Linked DNA regions of Homo sapiens. The protein of the gene in region 1 purifies or fractionates together with the protein of each later gene. This does not show direct contact. Each region holds a gene or a part of one and is shown on either strand. Other genes may lie near its edges.

Evidence for each region. The genes of interacting proteins can lie anywhere in the genome.
Region 2: the proteins of ITGAL (region 1) and ESM1 purify together in Homo sapiens (affinity purification with western blotting, with the first as the bait; one study listed by BioGRID). This does not show direct contact.

What each region holds. Positions count from the first base shown.
Region 1 is NC_000016.10:30,489,588-30,494,398, reverse strand, and holds part of ITGAL (integrin alpha-L isoform a precursor), read right to left. Parts: intron 188-4,811; coding exon 36-187; intron 1-35.
Region 2 is NC_000005.10:54,982,014-54,987,617, forward strand, and holds the start of ESM1 (endothelial cell-specific molecule 1 isoform a precursor), read right to left. Parts: upstream 3,581-5,604; 5' UTR 3,505-3,580; coding exon 3,204-3,504; intron 134-3,203; coding exon 1-133. UniProt on the Homo sapiens protein: Involved in angiogenesis; promotes angiogenic sprouting. May have potent implications in lung endothelial cell-leukocyte interactions.

The DNA of each region.
Region 1 (4,811 bases):
TCCCTGGTCTGCAGATGCCCTCGGACTGGGCGCACCTGGGTCCCATGGATTGTCTGGACCTGGCTCCAGTGTCCTCCGCCCTGTGGCTCTTGGAACAGCAGCACTCGGCCCATGTGCTGGTATCGAGGGGCTCCCGAGGCCAGCAACGAAGTCTTTTGCCGGGAGGGCAGCCAGGTCACGGTGTAACCTGAGGAAAGTGTGTGGGGTGTGGAGTTAGGAACACAGGATGCTGGAAGAACACCCAGCAGGAGAGGGGCAGGGGCCCCAGGGAATTGGGTTAGTAGCAGAGATGCATGGAAACAGCTGAAGACCTTCTCCTGAGAAAAGCATCCATGTGCTCCCAGCCAAACAAATCCTGCCATCTTGGGGATGGCATGTCTTCAACTGTGGGTGACATGCACACCCAGGGAAAAGCAGCTATGCACAACAAGTGGAGCGTGGAGCCTCTTCTGAGCCTCAGTTTACCTGAGGATTAGTAAGGAAGACTCCATTCTTTCTTCTTTTTTAGAGACAGAGTCTCGCTCTCTTGCCCAGGCTGGAATGCAATGGCGTGATCTCAGCTCACTGCAACCTCCGCCTCCCGGGTTCAAGCAATTCTCCTGCCTCAACCTCCCAAATAGCTGGGATTACAGGCGCCCAGCCACCACACCCAGATAATTTTTTGTATTTTTAGTAGAAACAGGGTTTTGCCATGTTGGCCAGGATGGTCTCAAACTCCTGGCCTCAGGTGATCCACCCACCTCAGCCTCCCAAAGTGCTGGGGTTACAGGCATAAGCCACTGTGCCCGGCCTCTTTTTTCTTAAATAATAAATTAAAATGGGAGTCCAGGTGCGGTGGCTCACGCCTGTAATCCCAGCGCTTTGGGAGGCCGAGGCAGGTGGATCACAAGGTCAGGAGATCGAGACCATCGTGGCTAACACGGTGAAACGCCGTCTCTACTAAAAATACAAAAAATTAGCTGGACGTGGTGGTAGGCGCCTGTAGTCCCAGCTACTTGGGAGGCTGAGACAGGAGAATGTGAACCTGGGAGGGGGAGCTTGAAGCGAGCTGAGATTTCGCTACTACACTCCAGCCCGGGCGACAGAGCGAGACTCCGTCTCAAAATAAATAAATAAATAAAATAAAATAAAATAAAATAAAATAAAATAAAATGGTATATATTAGTCAGAAGAATGCAAAGTTGGCATGGATATTAAAAATAAAGCATGTCTGGGCCAAGTGCAGTGGCTCACACCTGTAATCCTAACATTTTGGGAAGCCGAGGTAGGAGGATCACTTAGGCCAGAAGTTTGAGACCAGCCTGGGAAACATAGTGAGACCCCGTCTCTACAAAAAATTACAAAAACTAGCCAGGTGTGGTGATGCACACCTGTGATCCCAGGTACTAGAGAGGCTGAGAGGCAAAAGGATTGCTTGAACCCAGGAGTTCAAGGCTGCCTTGAACTACGATGGTGCCATTACACTCTAGCCTGGGTGACAGAGTGAGACCCTGTCTCTAACAAAATAAAATAAAGCAGGAAACTTGAAAAATTTTCATGCTTAAAGATATCATGTTGCCGGGCGCGGTGGCTCACGCCTGTAATCCCAGCAGTTTGGGAGACCGAGGCAGGCGGATCACGAGGTCAGGAGATCGAGACCACGGTGAAACCCCGTCTCTACTAAAAATACAAAAAATTAGCTGGGCATGGTGGCGGGCACCTGTAGTCCCAGCTACTCGAGAGGCTGAGGCAGGAGAATGGCGTGAACCCAGGAGGCGGAGCTTGCAGTGAGCTGAGATAGCGCCTCTGCACTCCAGCCTGGGTGACAGAGCAAGACTCCGTCTCAAAAAAAAAAAAGATACCATGTTGGCCGGGAGCGGTGGCACACGCCTGTAATCCCAGCACTCTGGGAGCCCAAGGCGGGTGGATCACCTGAGGTCAGGAGTTTGAGACCAGCCTGGTCAACATGGTGAAACCCCATCACTACTAAAAATACAAAAAATTAGCTGGGCGTGGTGGCGGGCACCTGTAGTCCCGGCTACTCAGGAGGCTGAGGCAAGAGAATCAGTTGAACCTGGGAGGTGGAGGTTGCAGTGAGCTAAGATCGCGCCACTTCACTCCAGCCTGGGCGACAGAGAGACTCAGTCTCAAAAAAAAAAAAAAAGAAAAAAAAGATATCATGTCAGTGTCAGGCTGTCTTCATCTTCAACTTCCTGTAATGAGGTTCTTTCCTCTAAGATACCAGGACAACCTCTATTGAATGTTCGAGGAAACACTGCAGGAAATTGGACCCAAGATTGGGCTAGAGCCAAGAGCCACCAGCAAGAATCCTCTGAGATGAGTCACTGACCCCATCTGATGGTCTCTGTGCAGAGCAGTTGAAAGTGAGTGAAGAAAACAGAGCTGTCCAAGGCCCTACAGCACATGGAAGGAAGAGTGAAGAGACGGAACCGCTTCCCTATTGTCGTATGGAGTCTGGAAGCACAAGGGTTAAGAACTCCAAATTCTTGAACTCCATGAGACAAGGTTTAAATCCTAGTGCTACTGCTTCCTAGCTGTGTAGTAGTTAAGTAAATTGCTTCATGCCTCTGTGCCTCAGTTTTCTCATCTACAAAAAGGGAAGAGGCTGGACATTGTGGCTCACGGCTATAACCTCAGCACTTTGGGAGGCTGAGGAAGGGGGATTGCTCAAAGCCAGGAGGTCAAGGCAGCAGTGAGCCAAGATGGTGCCACTGCACTCCAGCCTAGGTGACAAAGTGAGACCCTATGTCTAAAGAAAAAAAAAAGGAACAGTACCAATCTCATGGGGTGTGTTTTGAGAGTTAAATAAGACATGTATATAAAATGCTTAGTGCTACACTAGTGATAGCTAAACTGAGATCTGAAGGATAAGTAGCATAGTAGACACTCAGGATTCTGTTTATTTATCTATCCACATATATGTATATATTTATGTGTGTGTATAGTGGGGTGGGTGTCTAACTAGAGATTAAACTTTTTTTCTTTTTTCTTTTTTTTTGAGACAGAGTTTTGCTCTGTCACCCAGGCTGGACTGCAGTGGTACGATCTCGGCTCACTGCAACCTGTACCTCCAGAGTTCAAGAGATTCTCCTACCTCAGCCTCCCGAGTAGCTGGGATTACAGGTGCATGCCACCATGCCTGGCTAATTTTTTGCATTTTTATAGAGACGGACTTTCACCATGTTGGCCAAGCTGGTCTCGAACTCCTGACCTCAAATGATCTGCCAGCCTCAGCTTCCCAAAGTGCTGGGATTACAGTGTGAGCCACCACACCCAGCTAGAGATTAAATTTTAGAGTCATTTCTTCTTTTTTTTTTTTCACTGCAACCTTAACCTCCCAGGCTCAAGTGATCCTCCCATCTCAGCCTCCCAAGTAGCTGGGACCACAGGCATGCACAACCATGCCCAACTAATTTTTTTTTTTTTTTTGAGACAAAGTCTCTCTCTGTCACCCAGGCTGGAGTGCAGTAGTGCAATCTCGGCTCACTGTAACTTCCGCCTCCCAGGTTCAAGTGATTCTCCTGCCTCAGCCTCCCAAGTAGCTGGGACTACAGGTGCGTGTCACCACGTCCAGCTAATTTTTTTGTGTTTTTAGTAGAGACGGGGTTTCACCATGTTGGCCAGGCTGGTCTTGAACTCTTGACCTCAGGTGCTCTTGGACAATTCAAGAGGAGGAAGCCTTAAAAAGGAGTGGCCAGTCCTCTTACTAATAAGGCAGGTTGTTTTAAAATGTGCCTGGGATTTAATATATAGGTGTGACTGATGATACAGAGAGTCACTGTCATTGAAAGAAGTTTACTAGCCACAGTTCCAAGAGGGAGTAGGCACTGGATGCCATGCAGGGCCAGAGAGGGAAACACTACATTAGTGAAGAGGCAGGAGGAGCCAGGGAAGAGCATGGCCCAGAGCTCTTCTTGTGGTTTCCACAAGGAAGGGTGGCGAGCTAGGTTGGCAAGTTCAAGCAAGTTTAGGATTGCACAGTTTGAATAATTTTGGCTGGCTCTGGGCTATAGCGGTGGCCTCTGGTTGACTGATGCCTGGCTCTGAGCTGATTTAGGGCAGAGGAACTATCGGCTTATTGTGTAAGGATTAGACAAAGGAGGTGGCTGAGGATATGGGCTCGGAATTGGCTGGTTTGCATATAAAAGGCCTTTTTTTTTTTTTTTTTTTTAAGACGGAGTCTCGCTCTGTCATCTTGGCTGGAGTGCAGTGGCATGATCCTCAGTTCACTGCAACCTCCGCCTCCTGGGTTCAAGCGATTCTCCTGCCTCAGCCCCCTGAGTAGCTGGAATTAAAGGCACCCGCCATCATGCCCGACTAATTTTTGTATTTTTAGTAGAGATGGGGTTTTGCCATGTTGGCCAGGCTGGTCTCGAACTCCTGACCTCAGGTGATTCACCTGCCTCAGCCTCCCAAAGTGCTGGGATTACAGGTGTCAGCCACTGTGCTCGGCCCTGTTTGTTGAGACAGAGTCTTGCTCTTTTGCCCAGACTGGTGCGCAGCTGCGTGATCTCCACTCACTGCAACCTCCTCCTCTCAGGTTCAAACGTTTCTCCTGCCTCAGCCTCCAGAAGAGCTGGGACTACAGGCATGCGCCACCATGCCTGGCTAACTTTTGTATTTTTAGTAGAGACAGGGTTTCACCATGTTGGCCATGCTGGTCTTGAACTCTTGACTTCAGGTGATCCACCTGCCTCAGCCTCCCAAACTGCTGGGATTACAGGCATGAGCCACTAGGACCAGCTACAAGGCATATTCACAGGCAAGTTGTTTACTATCTCTAGGAATTTGCCTACCCTGGGAGAGGTAGT
Region 2 (5,604 bases), on another chromosome or scaffold:
CTGTTGGAAGACTTGGTTACTGAATATTGGAAGAAGGGGAATTTCAGGCATTTTCCCGTCCCCCTGTCACAGATGCCTGACTGGCAGTTGCAGGTCTCTCTGCAATCCATCCCGAAGGTGCCGTAGGGACAGTCTGGGGACAAAGGAAAGGTTGGAGAGGACGCTGCTTGTTGTAAATACGTCTCCATCCTAACAGCCCTGGGTGCATAGCCTTGCGATTTGAACCAACCTCATGAACCTTGACTGTAAAGTAAAATCCAATTCTCCAAACCCAGGATTTGAAAGTTGAAACTTTGAGTCATAAATATGAAATCACACATTAAGAACAGATAATGGATGCCTCGGGCTTAGTGTTGTGATGTAAAGTTAAGTTGAAGACAGCTACACACAGCCAGTCTCCTTGGACCAGTCTTCATTCTGGTGATGTTCTGCTTAGATACCAATAAATTCTCACAGATGACCTCTGTAACAGCTCAGCAAAGGTGGGAAATTGAACAGACATATATGCATCAGCTCCTCAAAGAGTTTTTAAAATGTGATGCTATCTTTGAATCTACTGTATTCACAGATAATTTACTATTTTAAGTGTATAGGAAAGGGCTTCAAACTAACCAGGGAGAGAGCTATCATCCTAGCTCACCATGAAGCAATCAATCTTCCATCTGCTCCAACCCTTATCAAGTTCCTTATTTGTCGAAACGGCATGTCATACAACTTGCCTGACTCCCTCAGTAGTTAAGAGGGCTCCCTAGTAAAATCCTCTGCAAGGCTAACATGCAAGATGCTAAATGAGCAAGAAAGCTCAGGGCTTATACACCCTGAGGGTTTGTACACCTACCAAGAACTAGAAGCTTTTAGACCTCCAGTGCTTACACTTATGCCAAAACATCCTACATTGAAATAAAGAGGACAAAGTCGTTTATTTAAAATGCATAAAATTATTTAAAATGCTGTTTTTAGGATAAACAGCATCTCAGTAGACTAACCAACCTTTAAAAGCCAGCAGAATAGATATAGAATATTCTCTTGTTGTGAAAATACCTTGTAAATGTACAATCACAGGTGGGTAAAGAACAAATTGTGAGCCATCTGAGTCTCTAGCAGTCTAATACTCCACTAACTGACCAAGTAGATCATCAATGAGCTATCTTTTTTTAAAGAGATCTATGAGTGCTCTTTTCAATATGGTTCAGATCACAGAGGAACCTGGTTTTGAACACTGTTCTCTTTGCTGGGAAGAAGAGATCTTAAAAAGGGATCCTGCAAAGGCCTGTTCCAGAAAAGCACACAGGATTAGGATTTGACTGTGCCTGCAGCGATATTGAAAACTAAAACTTTAGCCAAATTCCCAGAGATACTTCTAGTGTATCCCCTGATGTACTGAACAGTGCTGGGCAGATAGTAAGTGTTCATTAAATATGTGTTGGCTGCTGATTGTTAATCTGGGCAAGATGTTCACAGACATCTGAATATTTAGAAGACATTTGGATACGCAGCTGAAGTTTACAGTTTTCACGTGGATGTTCTTTTAAAAAGCTGAAGAAGGGAGATGATTGCCAAATGTATTATCTCTATCTCGAGTTGCTAAGGCTCACAAAGTCTCCTATTTCCAGCAGAGAGAAAAATGCTTAAAACTAGATTCATCAGCAACCTGAAGAAAGCCAAAAGAAGCAATCTTAAAGATCTTTTTAGTATCTTGATCATTCAGTAGAATACTACAGTGCTAAAGACTCCAGATGCCACACAGCTTGTTTCTTTGCCCATATGTAATGTACATTTACAATCACATGTACAAAGGCATATTATGCCAAGAGAAAAAGCAATCCACTGCATATACATGCTATATCATAAGTATGATTGTGTTAACCACTTCCTCCCTAATTTCCTTATGTGAAGTACTGTTTTCTTGGTCAATAAGCCCCATAATTTACAAAATATACAGATCCTATTCAGTTGAAAGAAACATGCATATGTGTTCACCAAACAAAATATTTTCTCAATATTCTATTTCTTATTGTATATAAACAAAAATAAACTAAGCAAAAAATAAAACTCTCCTAATACTTTAAGAATTTGTTTTTTTAATTTTGTATGTCTTGCAAATTAAAAGATGATTAATTTATACATTATATGTCTAAGAAGTAGGAGAATTAATGAGATTAGCACAATACTGGATAAATATTATTCATAAAAAATGTATTAAATACATAAAACATAATAATTATTTAGAAATTTCTCAGTCCTTTTTATAATTTTGAAAGCTTCCTGGTATTACACAACTGATGGATGGGGTTATAGCATGTGTTGCTTCTTAATAATAGCTCTTCATAATAAGATCATGAGATATCTATACGTAGAGTATTTTTAAATCATCATTCTTTTTATTCTAAACATTTTTAAAATGTTAAATATTTTAAACTAGTTACTATGTTTAAAATAAATTCTACAAATGCTTAACTACATTATTTAGCTAAAATTTCAACCGACGAAGTTTTTCTTTAAGTGTACAAGTGGTCAACCTCATTCTTTACAGACTTCCAGTTTTTATTTTTCTCTATTGTTATTTTTCCTTGTCTTAACACCATCTGCTATTTTTCCAGATGACCAAAACCTTTATAAAGTCAGATGAGGTTTGTTTTATGCTTCAGGGGACCCTCTTTGAAGAGTGAGTTATTTTGTTAGATGACTTAAGCTCACTCTATTCCATAAAGTGCATTTGTGTTTATCAGAAATATTTGATCTTGAGAGTGGCCCTCCATCCTGTGGACCCTTTCAAGATCAAAGAATCACTAAATCTGGGGGCTAGAAACCATTCCAAGAGGTTATCTAGTGCAGACCTTTGTAATCGCTGCCTCGCAGAGGAGAGAGCACCTAAGCCATCCTTAACAGATTACCTGTCAAGTTTCTAAAGTTTTCCAGAAAAGGAGCCAACACAATCTTCCATTGCAGCTTTCTTTTTGCGATCTCCTAAGGCAACGAGTAAAATGCCACACTTCTTTCTGTGCCTTCCTGCACACTGGTTTCAGTTGCTACTTGGAGCTATCCTTCAGTCTCTACCCATGACAATACCTGTGTGGTGCCTTGTCAAGAATCCACCTGCCTTTTCCCTCTTACTCTTGAGGAGCAAAGCCACCTCACCTCCCAAGCTGGCTAAAAGCTCTCAGCATGCCCCGGGAGGGGAGAGGTAAGGGGTCACTCTTTACCTTTGCAGATACCAAACTCTTCACCAAAAGGATCCTCCCCATTAGAAGGCTGACACCTCAGCCCCGGGCCACACTTCATGCCATCCATGCCTGAGACTGTGCGGTAGCAAGTTTCTCCCCGCCCTGCAGCGCACACTCGGCAGCAGCCACAGTCGTCGAGCACTGTCCTCTTGCAGCGCGGGCTGCTTTTGCACTCACTGCTGTCACAGTGTTGAGGGCAGTCCACCGCATAATTATTGCTCCAGGCGGCCACCAGGTGTGCAGGCACGAGGAGCGTGGTCAGCAGCAAGACGCTCTTCATGTTTCCCAGCTGCCTCCGGCTCGGCTCTCCAGTCGTGGTCTTTGCTGGTGGGAAGCAGCCGTCCAAACTGGTAGCTGAGCCTCTGCCTACACGTTTATGAGTTTTATACACTGGGTTGCCCGCATGCTTTCCCGTCATCAATTTCCTCAACCCAGCAGCAGCGCTGTCCTCCTGCCAGGCTCTCTTGTTTTGGTTTATGAAATCCAGGATGAAGGCTGGATTAACACGCTGCTGCCATCCAGGAATTGAAAAGCCCAAGCTGATGTCATCTGTTATGTTTAGATGGTTGTTTTGCATGAGGACTGAAAAACTCACTCACATCCGTCTCAAGGGCTCAAGGACGTCTGTGAAGGAGGGATAAAGAAGGTTGCACACCCTCCTTCAGGACGGGAATTGTTCTGACCCTGGCATATCACTTGAGGTGTAGCTTTGTCTCAGAGCCTCTGTAGTCAGGAGGAAAATGATATCAACATGAATCATCAGGACCGAAGAAGCTTCTTCAAAAAAAATAATAAACATTTGGTATTTCCCCTCAACAAATAGCTATGAGATCATTTGAAAGAAGAAAGGGTTATATTGTGTCTTTTCAATACTTAGAAGAAAGAAAATATTTTGATAGGGCTATTTTTTAAGACCCTCTCTTCCTTCCTCTCACCCCTCTCCTCAAATGTTATTTCTAAAGCAATTCATGTTACATATATCTAAGCCTATTGTGGATATAGCTGTGCTTCCAGTACAATGTGGAACTGCCTCTGAGAATTTCTTTTAAAATCAATACAAAAAGCCACAAGAGAGGTAAGATCCTTTCGGCACTGCTTCTGGGTTACTCAATTCTGGAAAAACTTATCAGTTGGACTTCTGATCCAAAACTTCCTCAGGGGAAGGCTCATCCATCACTAAGTCTGCTTGTCCAATGACGGAGTCCACCCAGAGCCCTTCCCCTCACCTCCTGGCATCTATCAGAGCCCTCACTAAAAACTGCCAAGCGCGGCAGCCAGCCCAAGGCAACAAGTGGCTCAGCAGGAAAATCAGAACACAGCCCCCAAGAAACAAGTCACAGGGAAGGGAAACATTACCCCTCAGGAAACAAGGTCTGCATGCTAAGAGGGTTACCGTGCCTAGGTCCCTCTGGGAAAACAGAGTAGCCCTCTTAAAATATCAACTGTGCCAGGGTCTTATTAAGTAAGGTTAAAGAGGAGAGAGGGGAGTTCTTACACCAACCACATGCCGAATTCCATGCCCCCACCTCACTTGTCAAAAGAGATATAGACTCACTGTCACTTAGTAAATAACAACCCAGTAAAGTGGGTAATTCTTGGTCTGTCACAAATGAGCTGTAAGAAATTCACAGGACTTCTCTTGGCCTCAGCTTCCTCTTTTGAGAATTGATGGTGTTAGGCTACCTGACCTCTAAAATTCTTGTTTCCCATAGAAGATGAGGCAGAGCGGGCATTGGATGTAACTTGAAGATCGGCTTTTGCAAATGCAATTTTAGGGGGACACAGGGAGTAAATTCAGAATACAGAGAATTGAGGCAGTAGGAAATGAAAGCAAGAGTTTTAGCTTTCAAATTTTCCAAATTTTTCATGACAATCCAATTTGAAATACTCTATCTCCCCAGAAGCACTTACTTAGCAGGTGGCACACTCTGATGTTTTCAGTAATGGGTAATATTTGTTGAGTTAATAGCTTAAACACTTTACATGCATTAACTCATTTGCACCTCATCACAATATTATGAAGTGGCTGCTATTATCATGCTTATTTTTTAAAAGAAGAAACTGAGTAAGAAAGAGGTTAATTTGCCTAAGGTCCCTATATTGAAGGGATGGATGTTAGTCTAATGTCAGAGCCACATATTCTATTGCCTATTACAATACATAATTGTGCTTTCATGGCCAATAGTTCCAATGGCCTAGGTCGCAATTTAGGCTGACCCTAGAAAATGTCCCTTGTTACTGAACACCACTTTCTGAGGAGTAGTTAACTGGAATAGTGGTTAATAATAATATCTAACCTTTACAGAGATCTGACTGTGTGCCAGATGCCATGCTAAGCAGTTTATGTAGATTACCACATTTAACTTTCAAAACAACCTCA